Homo sapiens: one gene and its partner. The protein of the gene in region 2 interacts with the protein of the main gene of each other region in a biochemical or structural test. Each region holds a gene or a part of one and is shown on either strand. Other genes may lie near its edges.

Region 1 (7,378 bases), on a different chromosome or scaffold from region 2:
CGTATACACACACAGGATAGATACATGAGCTAATATGTATCATTTTTATATTCCATTCTAAGTTCCAAAAGAATCTTTCAAAGCACAGATTGCTTTTTTGGAAGCAGCAAGGAGAATTTTTACTTCCTGCTGACCAGCACTATTTTATTTAAAGGCAACTGTTTGTGGACCTTAGGAATCAGTCTTCTCTTGACCACCTAGTATAATAATTGCTGAAAATGGGCTGAAACAATCATATTACACTGTTTACATCTGTTTGGATGCTCCTCTTACCTTTCATCTACAGAAATGTTGTACTCTTCGCTATTGCTGTGTGGAGGAGGATGTGCTGGGGGAGGAGGAAGCAGGTCTGCCCAGTTCATGCCACCCTGTTTTGGTACCTTGGGTGTTCTTGCCCCTTTCTTGTGCCCCTGACTCCCTAGAAAGGAAATAAAATAGAAGCCATTGATCTCTGGCCTTTAAACTTTTTCCATTAGTCACAAGTTAATTATTTTTTGTAAATATGATTTTATAATTCATTTATATATACAGAGATAAACATGCTTTTTCATTAATTTTAAACAGAACTTTGTACAAGAGAACATGCAAGGTACTGCCATGAATAACTGCAAAATAAATAGCAAAAAAGCAATAAAACCATGAATGAATGTTTCAAGTCATATCATTAATAGTGATCTTCCTGCAGCAATTAATTGCATTATGGATTATCATCTCAAACAAATGAGCTGTAGATATATTTTCTCGAGTGCCTTTCTATTATTTAATTGCTGGAACTTAAAATACAATATGATACAGATACGATCTATTAGAGTTCCACTGTTGCATTAAATCACTGAATATATATAATTTGTACTTGTCCATTGAAATGTTTTAGGCACAATGAAATTACTAGTTCCCTTCAGAAAGGCAAGTACAGATGAAATAATAGCTGGAATAACTGATAGAACTAATGACAAAAGAAGCAGAAAAATGATTTTTAAAAGGGACAGAAGTGTTTTCAGCCACTGTTTCTGTACAATGATGGCTTATGGTAAAATGATGTTGCTTGAACATTCTTAGTAGTTTGACATAGCCCAATCATTCAAGTGCTCCAGTGTTCTCATTTTAGATCTGGCATATTTTTTAAACACAAGAGGCTATATATTTGAGAGCATTTATTTTAACAAAAACTTTAGGTCAACAAATATTTTGGGACAAAATATCCCCTTTCCAATATGTTATATTTTTGATTCATATGTGAATTATAGACAATGAGTCTATGATTATTTTTCTCATAAGTTCCCTTTATATCAGTGCATTATGTTGGCCTTAGTTTTTTAACCCTATCCAATCCTTCTCCAAGTCATGTAATATATGAATCAGGTCTGATCATATTCAATGAGCCTTGATTTTTTTGTCACTTGGGAATTTTCAGTCAAATGGCAGTGTTTGTTAAGCCAGATGTTCTTGTACTGGTAGGTTACCACACTAAGCGTGGGCTAGGGACAGGCTGTTATTAATAAACTACGATTATCAGTCCTATGTGTATGTCTCTCACTTCTCTCGTCCACCACTCCGGTGTCCAGCATTGGGATAACTGTGCATGTGTTGTAGACTAGACATTAACCCACATCTTCCTCTGGATTTCCTGATATACATCTACTGTAGCAACTCCATCAGTCCGGAGAGGCCTATCACAGATCTCTCCTATACCTTATTTACTTGCTTTGTTCTCTTCCCTAATTACCATCACGCATCTTTACATCTTTTTACCATATATTCACAGAATATCAAATGATATATAGCAGTAGAACACCCAGATCTAGGTATCTAAGCTGAGGGATGCTGAAGGTCAATTAAAGATTAATAACCTAGAATCATTGTTTATTTTCCCATTAAGATATGGTTTTCTCTATGTGACTAAAAATTCAAAGATCAAATGGCATAAGATAATCAAATATTAAAATATTTCATATGATTTTCTTAAAAGTAGATCCTTGAAATATTTCTCTTAATTCAGGATTGACTTAGCTTCAAAAAAGAAGTCATTTAATAAGATGTTAATTGTTAAAACAAACAAATAACATATAATAGAATCAGAGTAAATCTAAAAGGTAAAGGGCCATTTCTAAGCTCCCTTAATTCCAACAGAAACACAGGCTAGACAATGCCAGACCAGCGTGTTAGTTAAGGGAAAACTGTAAAATGCAAATGCCATATTCATTACAGAAGAAGGGTGGAGACTCTTGGCTAAAAGCCCCTAAGAACAACTTTAATCCAGTTGCTGGGAAGTGGCATTTCTACCCTCTCCTGGAGAAACATTGCTAGAGTCAAGATCAGTCGGTTTTGTTCTCATTGTGGTGTGATGTGCCACATGTTAGTTCTAATAACGAACTGCCTTTAATTAGAAAAACAGGACTTAAGTACCCAGCAAGCTCCCATCTGCAGCCCCTATCAGGAAAACAGCTGGCAAACAGCTGTAACAGCATGAAGACCACAGGGAAGAGGCCTCAATGTGGCTTTGGGAGGCACTTACAGACTGAGGTTGGGAGGTTGCTTTACGAGGCTTCAGAGCAAGAACTGAGGGATCGTAGAGGGATGATAAACTGAGACAGGCTCCTATTGTACCTGAATCTCATGTTATTGTCTCTCCGGCTTTTGATTCTGCTCAAGTGTCCTCAAACATTATGTGCTTTTATAGGCTCGTTTCAAATGGCAACATATTTAGCAGGTTAACTCTGTGCAACATTTTTAGTTATATTTTGGCCAACGGGGAAAAAGTTTCAACTGCCTTTAAAGATTAACCAGACATGTTTCTTCTGGCTTTGCTAAAGCTCATTAACAAGGAAGAAAATAGGACACTTAGTCTTTTTGCCAAATAGAACATAAAATGATTTAGTGAGTGGAAAGTCCCTCAAATTGCAGAGACAAGACACATGCCTGAGACTCAAATTACATACAGTGATTTAGACATGTCACCTACATACGTCAGTCCATTAGCACTCAATTTGTAATCTTGGAAAGTACCAGCTTTTTAAAGGAGAAGTTCTTTGGTTCATCTTACTTACCAGATGTACTACTGCCCCGGTCTGAGCTGTTGTAGGATCCTCCTGTGTTCTGGTCGTATGATTGGTTGTATGGGATAGTTGGAGGAACTGTGTCATTTGCTCGATAATCTAGACATATCAGATGAAAAAACAATAAACATTTATTTTCTCTTCATGAGCGATTTCACATCTCTGCTTTCTCTATATTTCTGAGTAACTAAAGAAACAAATTGGACCATTTATTTGCCTTTTTTCTCTTCTATTGTTGTATTCAGATTGTCAGGATATAAAAAGGCTTATACTCCAAATATATATAAACTATAAATAACTTTAATAATATAATATCAATATGATTTTAATAAGAATCACAAAAATGTCTGCAAATCATAAAAAATAAATCACAATACATAAAAATAAAACTGAAACCTGTCAGCAAGGTTATATCTAATAAAAAATATATCTATGATTAAAAAAAACAAATATCTTAATTTGCCCCAGAAATGCTTCTGCTTACTTAGGCAAAGGTGAAAATCCAAATGATAAGCTTGCCACTGGAATGTAGTCAGTAATAATCTGTCGTCTAGTTGCATTCCAGGTTCTTTATTATGGTCTGACATACCAAATCTGCTTACAAGCAGTATAAACAATAAATCAGAGTTCTGAAATATTTGTGCGGAGGCTCTCAGGGCTTTCCGAAGTCCACAGTAAAACAATATACTATGAAGGAATAATGTGACAATAGTTTGAATCACCACTGCAAACTCCATGATTACAGAAACTGTCCTGTTCATCTTTGTCAGTTTTTGTTATGAACTTATGCAGGAGTCTCGATCCATATTTATTAAATTGGGTTATTATACCAATCAAGTACTTTCTTAAACTTGAGAAAAGCCTAGCTGACTTCATTCTCGAGTTAAAACATAATATTAACTTAAATGAAATTTTTAAGTTATATTTTTGTCATCTTCAACTGTGATAAATCGCATTTTCAAAGAAAATGTTCCCAACCCAAACCTAAAGAAAATGTCTATGTCTCCAATTATCTCCAGTGTATTCTTTACCTGGAATAGGTGGGGATGCATTGCCCCCATCTATTCACATTAGAGCAATCCTGGTTTTCCTAGAGGTATAACTTTGCAAATCATGATATTATAGCAGTAGCCTAAAGGACTACAAAGAAACCAAACACCTATCTTTTCCAACTCATACACATTACAATACAGAAACATTTCCTTCAGGCCACAGAATACTATTCTGCGGCTTCAAGTTAATACTAAACTCAATTTATTTTAGGTTCTATACGGACAGACTTCAATCAGGTCAACCAAGGAAATTTAGGTTCTAAAATTATACACTGTAGCAGTCTTAATAACCACACGAGGTGGGAGACATACAACAAATTGAACCACTTCTCCAGTTCAAGTTTAATTTAATTATTTTATTTCAGGTTGATATAAAAATGCCATTGGTTTATATAACCACATAGAAGCAATTATCTTCCATCCTCTAGTGGAAAGAATGGGATAGTCTATTTATTGAAAATGCGAGGTATTGTGACAGTTGTACATCTGCCTCATGAATAAAAGATTGTCCGTCCCAATCCCTCACCTGCTATTAAATTTAAATTAATCTCAAAACCATTTGAAAATACTTATATATTATTATAAAATAAATTTTCCAAGGTTATTGTTGTGCTAATTAACTCTTTGACACTGGAAATTTTGAAACCAAAGAAATAAGAAAATCTCAGCGACAGAAGAAAAGATTTTACTTGCTAGTCGCAGACAAGTTTCAACATCTAGTCGAGGTGCTGAGAGTATCATACAGAAACAGATGGGAATACATGCAAGCCTCTTCACCTTTGTTCAGCTTGTTTTGCTCCACGATGTTGTACTGAACTGGTGCCACTTCTTGTTTCTGCTGTCCCAGTGGTTTCCAGTGCTTCTCGCCAGAGTCCCCGCTGCCATTGTTCATGTTGTTGCTGAGGTTTGACTGGATGAGCTGAGTGGTGGCGTAAGGAGTAGGCTGCCCTGATGGATTGACAAAACGCCCATCCTTCAGATTTGGGCTATTGAAGGTTTTCATCTCATTGATTTTGTTACTAAGGTCCACATCACCATAAACAGTTGACTCAGGGAGCATCAGATTTGTTTGTTTGTTATCCAGTTGGTTGTTATAATTTGCTATACAATCAGCTATGTGCAATGGAGAGGAAAAGGAAAAAATCATTCTGCGTGGTTATTCCTTTTAAATTTCTTTTTACGTAGCTTTGCGAGTCATCAGAAAATCGTTATGTAAAGTACAAGTGGGCTTAAATAAGATCAATAAAAACGGCCAAATATCCACATGTGCTTTCTAAAGAAAATTAATAATTGAAAAAATAAAAGAGGGTACACAGAATTTGTAGAGACTAAATAAATTTGAATTTCTGATAGTGCTGAAGTAAACAATTCATCCAATTTAAAATAATTTTCATTTAATAACCTCATTAATAGGAATTCCACTAAAATAATATATACATGTATATCTTTATGTGTCAACTTTTTATTTTCTAGTCTTTGGTTACTGAATTATTTGAAGCTACTGGTTAGCTGCTGAAGCAACAGACAAAGCACATAAATGAAAAATCCAAAGGAAAAAACTATTCATAGATCAAAGAACTTGAGATTTTGGTATTTTATAAAATACCTACATTTAAAAGATATGGGAACAGGGGTAAAATGATAGTAAATGGTACTAAGGAGAATTCTATTAGTTCTTGTTGTAGTCCTGTTGGATAATCATTATCCGGAAAACATGCTATATAATTATTTTCTCATGGTTTCATAATGACAACCAAAGAAATATAAAATGACAATAATAATAATAACAAAAGGAATCATAGTAACCTGGGTAATTGAATCAAATAAGCCTGAAATAATACTTAAATATCTAATATCTCATTTCCACTCCAGTTTTCTCTCTATTGAAATATTTGGACATTAAATAACTGAATATACATACATAATATATACATTCATTTTATATATATATATATATATATATATATATATATATATGGCCTGCAGTTGAAAATATTAAAATGGTAGGAAGAACTGAAATCATATTTTTAAATTAAAATAGATTTTAAATAGAAAAATTAGTTAAATTACAATGGTAAAAATGTCATTATTTTATGCATGTTGTCCAAAAGTGGTACCAACATTAACAAGTCACCTGTAGCATTGGTTTTTAACTGGATATGTTTAAAAATTATAAATTAACATGTTTGTTACTAAAGATGTAAATGTGAATATAATCTTAAGAAAAATGTGTAATTTCTCTATCCTACTGAATTCAACTATTCTGCATTTCAACCATGAACCGTCAGGGAACAGAAATATTTGATTCATCTGGACTTTGTGATTCTTATTTCTAATTTCTAGTTTTGTTTAACAGTGGTTAAGAAATACTATAAAGATCATGTGGTTTTTGCATTCTCATTTTGTTTCGCCAATCTGTCTATATTTGTGTTATCCAACAGAACTTTGGAGATATTGGACATGGTCTACTCCACTTTGTCTGATACAGCAGCCACCAGTCACACGTGGCCACTGAGCACTAGAAATGTAGCTAGTGCAAAAGAGGGACTGAGTTTTAAACTATATTTTATTAAATTCAATGTAAATAGCCATCTGTTGCCAATGGCTACCATATTGGACAACACAGCTCTACCTATTAAATGGGTATCGCCATTTTTTCTCTCCTATAGGTCTCAACCCAGTTTTTCTTGTACTTATGATTACATGAGTATCTATCTGTCTAGACATTCAGAATATGGGCCTCTAGAGGACAGAGACTTGGTCACATGGATACGTCACATCCACGTCCAGTGGACACTCAGGATTCGCTTTAAGGGCAGACATGCAGACTGCTCTATGATTTGTTCTTTATAGTGCATAGCATCTTTACTTAAATCCAACTTCTCTCTCGCCTTTCCGTAATTCCACAGGTTATTTTACTTCTATCATCATAGAGATTCCATACAATAATTTTAATATTTCCTATATTGGCAATATTGGGTTTTTTTTTGGGGGGGGGAGGGGTTGTTTGGTAAGAAATCTTTGGTAATTTTTATTCCTTTAAATCTTGCAGACTGTACATCTGATTTTTTACTATTATGTTTTGGCATGAAATTTTAGCAAGATAATTTACTCACACATACATCTGACTCAAAAAACAAACAATAGAAAATAAATGTATGCATGCACACCTGCAGTGTGTGTGTGTGTATATATATGTGTGTATGTGTGTATATATATACACTTATATACATATATGTATGTGTGTATACACACATACATATATGTATA
Region 2 (7,378 bases):
TCCCGTTATAAGCTTTATTTATAGCATCTGTGAAAAATGACTACATTGTCAAAGATGGATTTTTATATCTCATATTTAAAAACAACAAATTCTTCACAGTTATGCCATGTGTAGGGGGAAATCTTTGTTTTTATCCTGCTCTTTGGCCCATTTTGGCTTTTAAAGGATTAATTAGCTAAGTTAAGACTTAAGCCCCAACATCACTGTGTGGTTCTCATAACAATTTGGTGGGGCAAACACTGGAAGGTAGAGAATCATGCCTTCCAGGATTCTCTTCTTCCTGACTTCAAAAGGATCCCCTGTCCCTCACTAGAGTATCAGGGTAAACCAAAAAAGGGGTGGTGTCTACATGAAACTGGCTAAAGTCATTTGAATTAAAAATATATTAAATGATTTTGCTTATCAGATAAAACAAATATGTAGACATAATTTGCCCCATGTACACTATATTTATTATCTTTAATCTAGTGCAGCTTCTTCCATAGGGATCTGAATGACTTGCTTAAAGGTATACAGTGAGTTGGTGGAAAGACTTAAAATTTGAGTTTGTTAATTTCATGTCAATTCTTCAAAGTTCTGGGTGAAGAGTTAAAAGGTGCTGGTTGGCTGAGCGCAGTGGCTCACGCCTGTAATCCCAGCACTTTGGGAGGCCGAAGTGGGTAGATCACATGAGGTTAGGAGTTCGAGACCATCCTGGCCAACATGGTGAAACCCTGTCTCTATCAAAAATACAAAAAAATTAGCCAGACATAGTGGCACATGCTTGTCGTCCCAGCTACTCGGGAGGCTGAGGCAGGAGAATCGCTTGAGCCTGGGAGACAGAGGTTGTAGTGAGCTGAGATCACGCCACTGAACTCCAGCCTGGGCGACAGAGCAAGACTCTGTCTCAAAAAAAAAAAAAAACAACAAAACAAAAAAAAAGGTGCTGGTGGTTGAATCCAGGTGTTCTTTCTCGCCTGCACCCTTCCTAGCTGCAGATTTCCTAAGAAAAGCCTCCCCCATGCAGAGGCTGAACTGCAGAGCCATAAAAGCAAATGAATCAAATGTTTTTGTCTGAGCACAAAACAAAGAGACATATTTTTTTTTTTACTGTCTGCTTATCAAGTAATGAATAAAAATATTTGTTTTTCATTTTGTCTTGAAAATACAAATGTTGAAGAGAAAAATTACTAACGCTGTCCACACAAGGAGCATTTTCTGTTTTTAACTGTCTATTTAAGACATACTATCAATCATTCAGAAGCTACCACAAATGTTTATTCTCTGAAGCTGAATTTTAAGATCCGATCATCTCTCCATAGAGAGAGATCTCTTACCTGAAGTGTTATGTTCGTCTGAGGCCGAACCTTGGCTGAAGGAATCTGAAGATAAGACTCTTTGTTTATAAAATTCACACTAACCAATTTTTCACACTTTTCTCCCTGATAGCCAGGCAAACACTGACATATTGGCTCATTTATTCTGACGATACACTGAGCTCCATTCTGACAATCAAAATTATCACAGGGGCTGGTACGAGGGAGGACCATGGGTGGAGAAAACTCACAGAACAAGCCACTGAAGAATAAGGAGAAAAAAAAATTAGTTAATACGATTTTACTTAATTGCCAATCTGAATTGAGAGCTGTATAACATAACTGTATATTATATATGTGCACTTCCTTGTTTTTCCAGTTTTCAAGTATTCTTAACTATTAAACAAAATCATCACTGTGCTGTACAACAGATATTCCAAACTTACTCATCCTGTCTAAATGACATTTTGTACCCTTTGACCAACATCTCCCCAAACACCATCCCTCTGTCCTCCTCTTTGGTAACCCTCATTCTACTCTTTGCTTCTGTAAGTTCTACGTTTTTTGTCTTAAAATTTTTTTATTTTAATTTTTGTGGGTACCTAGTAAGTGTATATATTTATGGGGTAAATGAGGTATTTTGATACAGGCATGTAATGCATAATAATCACATCATGTTAAATGGGGTATCCATCCCCTCAAGTATTTATCCTTGTGTTACAAACAATCCAGTTATACTCTTTTAGTTATTTTAAAATGTACGATTACACTATTACTGACTATAGTCACCCTGTTGTGCTAGGTCTTATTGAACACTAGGTCTTATTCATTTCTGCTTTTACCTGTAACCTTCGGGGCATATGCACGTATAGCCGTTCACTGCATCTGTGCAGTGGGCTCCGTTTTTACACTTGTTGTCTTGGCAGTCGTCAAAATCGATGTCGCAGTGTTCACCTACGTACCCTGGTGTGCAGTCACATCTGTTGGAACAAGCAGGTAATGGTTTCAAACCCAACTGAGCCAAAATAAGTAAACAATGCATTTTATCTAGACACAATGGCACCATCTTTAAAATACTTATTTAGAATAGGCTCATAGAGCCCCCACATTAATGGATACCTAGAAAATCGAACTGTTCTGCAGTATGTTCCATGTTCTATCACTGTGATCTACCAGAGAAATAGTGATTTTATCTCCTTGATAGTGAACATCCACAGCCCAAATAAGAACAGGGTAATTGTAGCAGGGTCACTCCCTCCCACCCACTCTCCTCCCTCTTCCTTCCTTTCTTTTTCCCCATTTTGTTTGCTTACAGTGCCCTATATTTTCAGTTTGGCCTAATCCATTTGATCATTGAGATTATAAAAGTGCTATGTTGTAAAATTTACTGGAAATATTAAACATATTTAAAAAAAGATTAACATTTTTAATTTTACAATAGAGACTAGATACATCAGAACAAGGTATTATTTTAAGAAAAGCAAATATATTAATATTAAATACCCTAATTCACAATGAATCCAGATACTCATTATAGAAGAACGGGACTGACATAATGGGTTAGGATAGAAGAACTGATAGAAAATTCACGGGGCCAATCCCACGGACAGTTTTCAGCCTGTTCACCATGGTGGTAAAGGGTCTTGGCTGCATTGATGGTGAGGAACCAGGAGTAATAATACAGCTGACATTCACTGAGCACTTCCTCTGGCCCTGCTCTAACCATGTGGCTTCTATGGATTCACTGAATCCTCTCCACAGTCCTGTGATATTCGTGGTATTACTTTGCCCACTCTACAGGTGAGGAGACTAAGGAACAAAGAGGTGAAGTACTTTGCCCCCAAACACTCAACTTCTAAGTGCCACAGCCAGGAATCAAACTCAAGCAATCTAACAAGAAAGCTTGTATTTCTAACCACTGCACTATGCTGTTGAATAATTAATTCCACAGGCTCCCTTTAAACCTGTACTTCTCTAGTGCTGACCACTGGGATCTCTAGTTATGATACCAAGGATGCAGGATTTTATAGCTGCATGAAGAAAGGCAGTGTGGCACGTGCAGCAGTTTTCAAACTGCACTGTGGACCTATAGGGGACCATAGAATCCCTACAGGTATGGCCATCTATGAGGAGGGGTCTTCTGGAAGCCTCCCTCTACCCTCCACCTTTTCCTCAACACTCTCCTGTTGTGATTTATTAGGCTTACACATTGGCTTCCAAGAGTGTTTTTGATTTGAGTTTAAGAGAGGGTTCACTGACTTTATATATATATATACACACACATACACATACATATATACATACATATACACATAACTGCAAAGCCTGAATTCTGCAGAGCTAGGTCATAGTTTTCTCATATATACACACACATATATATATATACACACATATACATACACACATACATATGCGTGTATGTATATGTATATGTATATACACATGTACATACATATACATATATACACACATACATACATATGTATATACACACATGTACATACATATATACACACATACATATGTATGTGTGTATATATGTATATATATGCACATGTGTATATATATGTGTATATATGAGAAAAGTATAACTTAGCTCTGCAGAATTCAGGCTTTGCAGAATATGTACATATGTACATATATACACATATATACACACATACATATGTATGTGTGTGTATATGTATGTACATGTGTATATACATATACATACACACATATGTATTGTGTATGTAGCAGTGTATGTATATATGTGTATATATATGTGTGTATATATGAGAAAACTATAACTTAGCTCTGCAGAATTCAGGCTTTGCAGAATTCAGGTTTTACAGAACTGTGTTTGTACCCCGGCTTCATTCTTAATTGTATGTTATCAACTTTATTTTATTCTAGATTTACTGAGGTATAATTGAAAAATAAAATCTTTATATTTTAAAGATGTACATGGTAATGTTTTATACATACATACATTGTGAAATAATTACCACAGTCAAGCTAATTAACATATCCATCACCTCCCATAGTTACCCTTTTCCTTTTGTGGTGAAAATATTTCAGATCTGCTCTCTGAGCAAATTTCAAGTATATAATACAGTATGAACTATAGTGACCATGCTGTGATATTAGATCTCTAGAACTTATTATTCATCTTGTAACTGAAAATTTGTGCCACTGACCAACATCTTCCCATTTTCCCCACCCCAATTCCTGGTAACCACTCTTGTACTCTCTTTTTCTATAAGTTTGACTTTTTAAAATTCCACATATAGGTGAGATCATCCGGTATTTGTCTTACTATGTCTGGCCTATTTCACTTAGCATAAAGTATATATAATACTGACTAAATTACTTAATCTCTGTAAGTGTTATTTTCCTCATCTTTAACACGTATATAATTCCACCTCACAGGTTTATTTAAAGATTAAACGCATCCATCTGTAAATTAATTAGTATAGTTTTTATATATAATGCACGTTCTATAAATGGCTGGTTTTTAAAATAATTCTCTATATAGTCTTTATAATTCTATAAAAGCTTTTATGGTTTAGTCTGTATTAATTATCCACTTTTCTATTTCAAAGCTATTAGGATTTGAAGTAAGGATAATTAAAAACACCCAAGTGAATGTGGCATTACTGAATGCCTAAGGTTTTGTCTGAAAATGCTAAATCAGGATTTGAGAGTTGCTGGAGAGCGGAAGAATTAAAACAAATGGGAGTATATAGCCTCTAAGAGTAGCAAACAGACTTTCAGCTCTGCATGTATGAATTAAGAAATAAAATGAGCTCACTGCATAAGCATGCTTGCTTTGCAGCCAGTTGGTTTTAATGCTAAATCATAGCAAAGCAAAGTAAACAACAAGTCTGAAGTTAAATAGACTCTAAGTGGCCATATACATTCTCAAAGAGATGGACAAGGCCCGAGAAGAGAACTTCCATCAATGTTAATGTGAGCAGAGCTGTTGAAGTGCCAAGCATTAAAAAAAAGAAGAAATGCTTTGAAACACTCTGAATTATTTATCTGAAAAAAGAAATCAAAGTGAAAGATAAGAGAACAACACATCCACCATAGCGGCTGTCTAAGAGCTATTTTATATTCCCTTCTCTCCAAATACTATTTTTCAAGACCATTAGAGCTTGGAGTTACATTATGTCCAACATTTTTGTCTTTCTTTTGCTCCTCAGACTGAGTTTCAAAACAGAAAGAAAAATTTAAATAAGAATTCCTGAGTTTGTATTATCAATAAAACCTATCACATTCCTTCAACTCTATTATCTGACAAGGAGAGAGGAAGAAGCAAAGAATATAAAATACACTGTTTAGAAGCCCAAAGCTGGCTATGTAAGATGCAGGTTTGAAAATACTGCTTATGGCATATCATAGTCTAAAAATATCTCAAAGCAATTTGGGAGATTTATGAGGTATATAATAAAGCAATAAAAGTAAAACCAGCTCTGTTAGCTTAGTAATAAGAAAATGAAGTTGAAGTAGCATAGCATAACTTGTCTAAACAACATTTGTCAGTAGAGATTTTCTTTAGCAGCTTCACAGAATTTGATTTTTACGTCTATTTTCTTTCCACAGCTACCTTTCCCACAATGTCGGGAGTAACAGCACACACACTGACCTAACCGTTTTCTGCTAAACTACCTACATACAGCTATGAAACGAGCTTACAAACTATAATGGAAAACAGTGGGTTTCCAAATGAGTTAGTCCATAATGCAGCAAAATGCACTTTTAAGAGTGTCTAATTTATTTGATGGCGAGAGGAGATATTTAATTAAGGATTAGTCTTTTTGCAGACAAACTCACTTTCTAATAGTTTCAGTTAAGTCTTACTAATACTTTATCTTATACTTACAATACACAAAGTACTGTGACATCTGTTCAGCAGATGAGCAGTTCTGGAAAACTTTCCTTACTAGCTAATTTCTCTAAGAAATGATATTTATTATGTAAGTGATGTGTTTTCAATTTGCCAAATTAAATTGTGAGCGCATCATTGATATGAAGACTAAAAACAACTTACCTACAGTGTTTGGTTGAATAAAATATAATGTAAAGTTTTGTATAAAGTGAAAATGGAATAACACTGGGTTTTTGCCTAGGGTTGTAAACTAAAATATAATGCAAAATAGAATCAAATTTATTCTTTCCTTTTTCAAAAAGACATTGTAGGGAATTAGCAGGTGCTACAACTGTACCTACATATTCTACATTTTTGGATTTTAAACCAAATTAAAGCAAAAGCACATTGTCAAAAGAAAGCTTGAGAATAAATATTTAATTTAGATTGATATTTGAAAAGCAGTGGGGATCTGGCGATTCTGACCCCACTCTCCCACCCGACTTAAAATATCTGATGATCTGTTCGGTAAGTACAAATATCTTAGCAATCCAGCTCAAATTCCATCTTCTCTTATAAAATTCATCCCGACCTGTGTAATTGTTAATTCCCTGAATTCTATGGCAATTGAGCTTGGGTCATTTCTCTAAGAAGATGAATTAAGTGAAGGTGAATAGCTATAAAGGACTACAAAATCATAAGATGGTATTATTACCATGTGCTGTGGCCATGGCAGGCACTCAATAAATATTGCTTGAAGGAACAGATAATGCTATTTGCTAGCTGTCTGATGAAAGCACAGCTCAACCCCTGTACCCGACTGTGTAATTCCTAAGAATCCAGCCTATTTGCTACACAATACCAACTGTAATGTTAATAAACTATAAAATTTCTTATAGGTAACACATAGTAGAAAAATCACCCAACTGGTAAGTATAAATCCTAGCTCTAGCTCTGCCAATAAATAACCTTAAGATCTCTGGACAGTCAACTAACCTCTCCGGGCCATGGTTTCCTCATGTTTAAATGAAGACTAGATGATCTCTAAACTACTGCCAGCTCTAAAAAGAGAAGTTGCTGTTGAAAGACCCTTAAAATATTACAGGATGGTGGCAAAGAAATCACGTAATTTCATAGCAAACATATTTCAGGAATATTGCTGGGGAGGAAAAAGGAAGTGTTTTTTGAAGTTCTGTGTTCACTTAAGGGAGTACACTTAGCGGGATTATAA

What was found.
Region 1: the proteins of SLIT2 (region 2) and ROBO1 are reported together in a solved structure, tested with the Homo sapiens proteins (one study listed by IntAct).

The regions. Positions count from the first base shown.
Region 1 is NC_000003.12:78,630,888-78,638,265, forward strand, and holds part of ROBO1 (roundabout homolog 1 isoform a precursor), read right to left. Parts: intron 5,222-7,378; coding exon 4,886-5,221; intron 3,156-4,885; coding exon 3,048-3,155; intron 419-3,047; coding exon 274-418; intron 1-273. UniProt on the Homo sapiens protein: Receptor for SLIT1 and SLIT2 that mediates cellular responses to molecular guidance cues in cellular migration, including axonal navigation at the ventral midline of the neural tube and projection of axons to different regions during neuronal development.
Region 2 is NC_000004.12:20,590,594-20,597,971, reverse strand, and holds part of SLIT2 (slit homolog 2 protein isoform 1 precursor), read right to left. Parts: intron 2,276-7,378; coding exon 2,138-2,275; intron 1,558-2,137; coding exon 1,317-1,557; intron 1-1,316. UniProt on the Homo sapiens protein: Thought to act as molecular guidance cue in cellular migration, and function appears to be mediated by interaction with roundabout homolog receptors.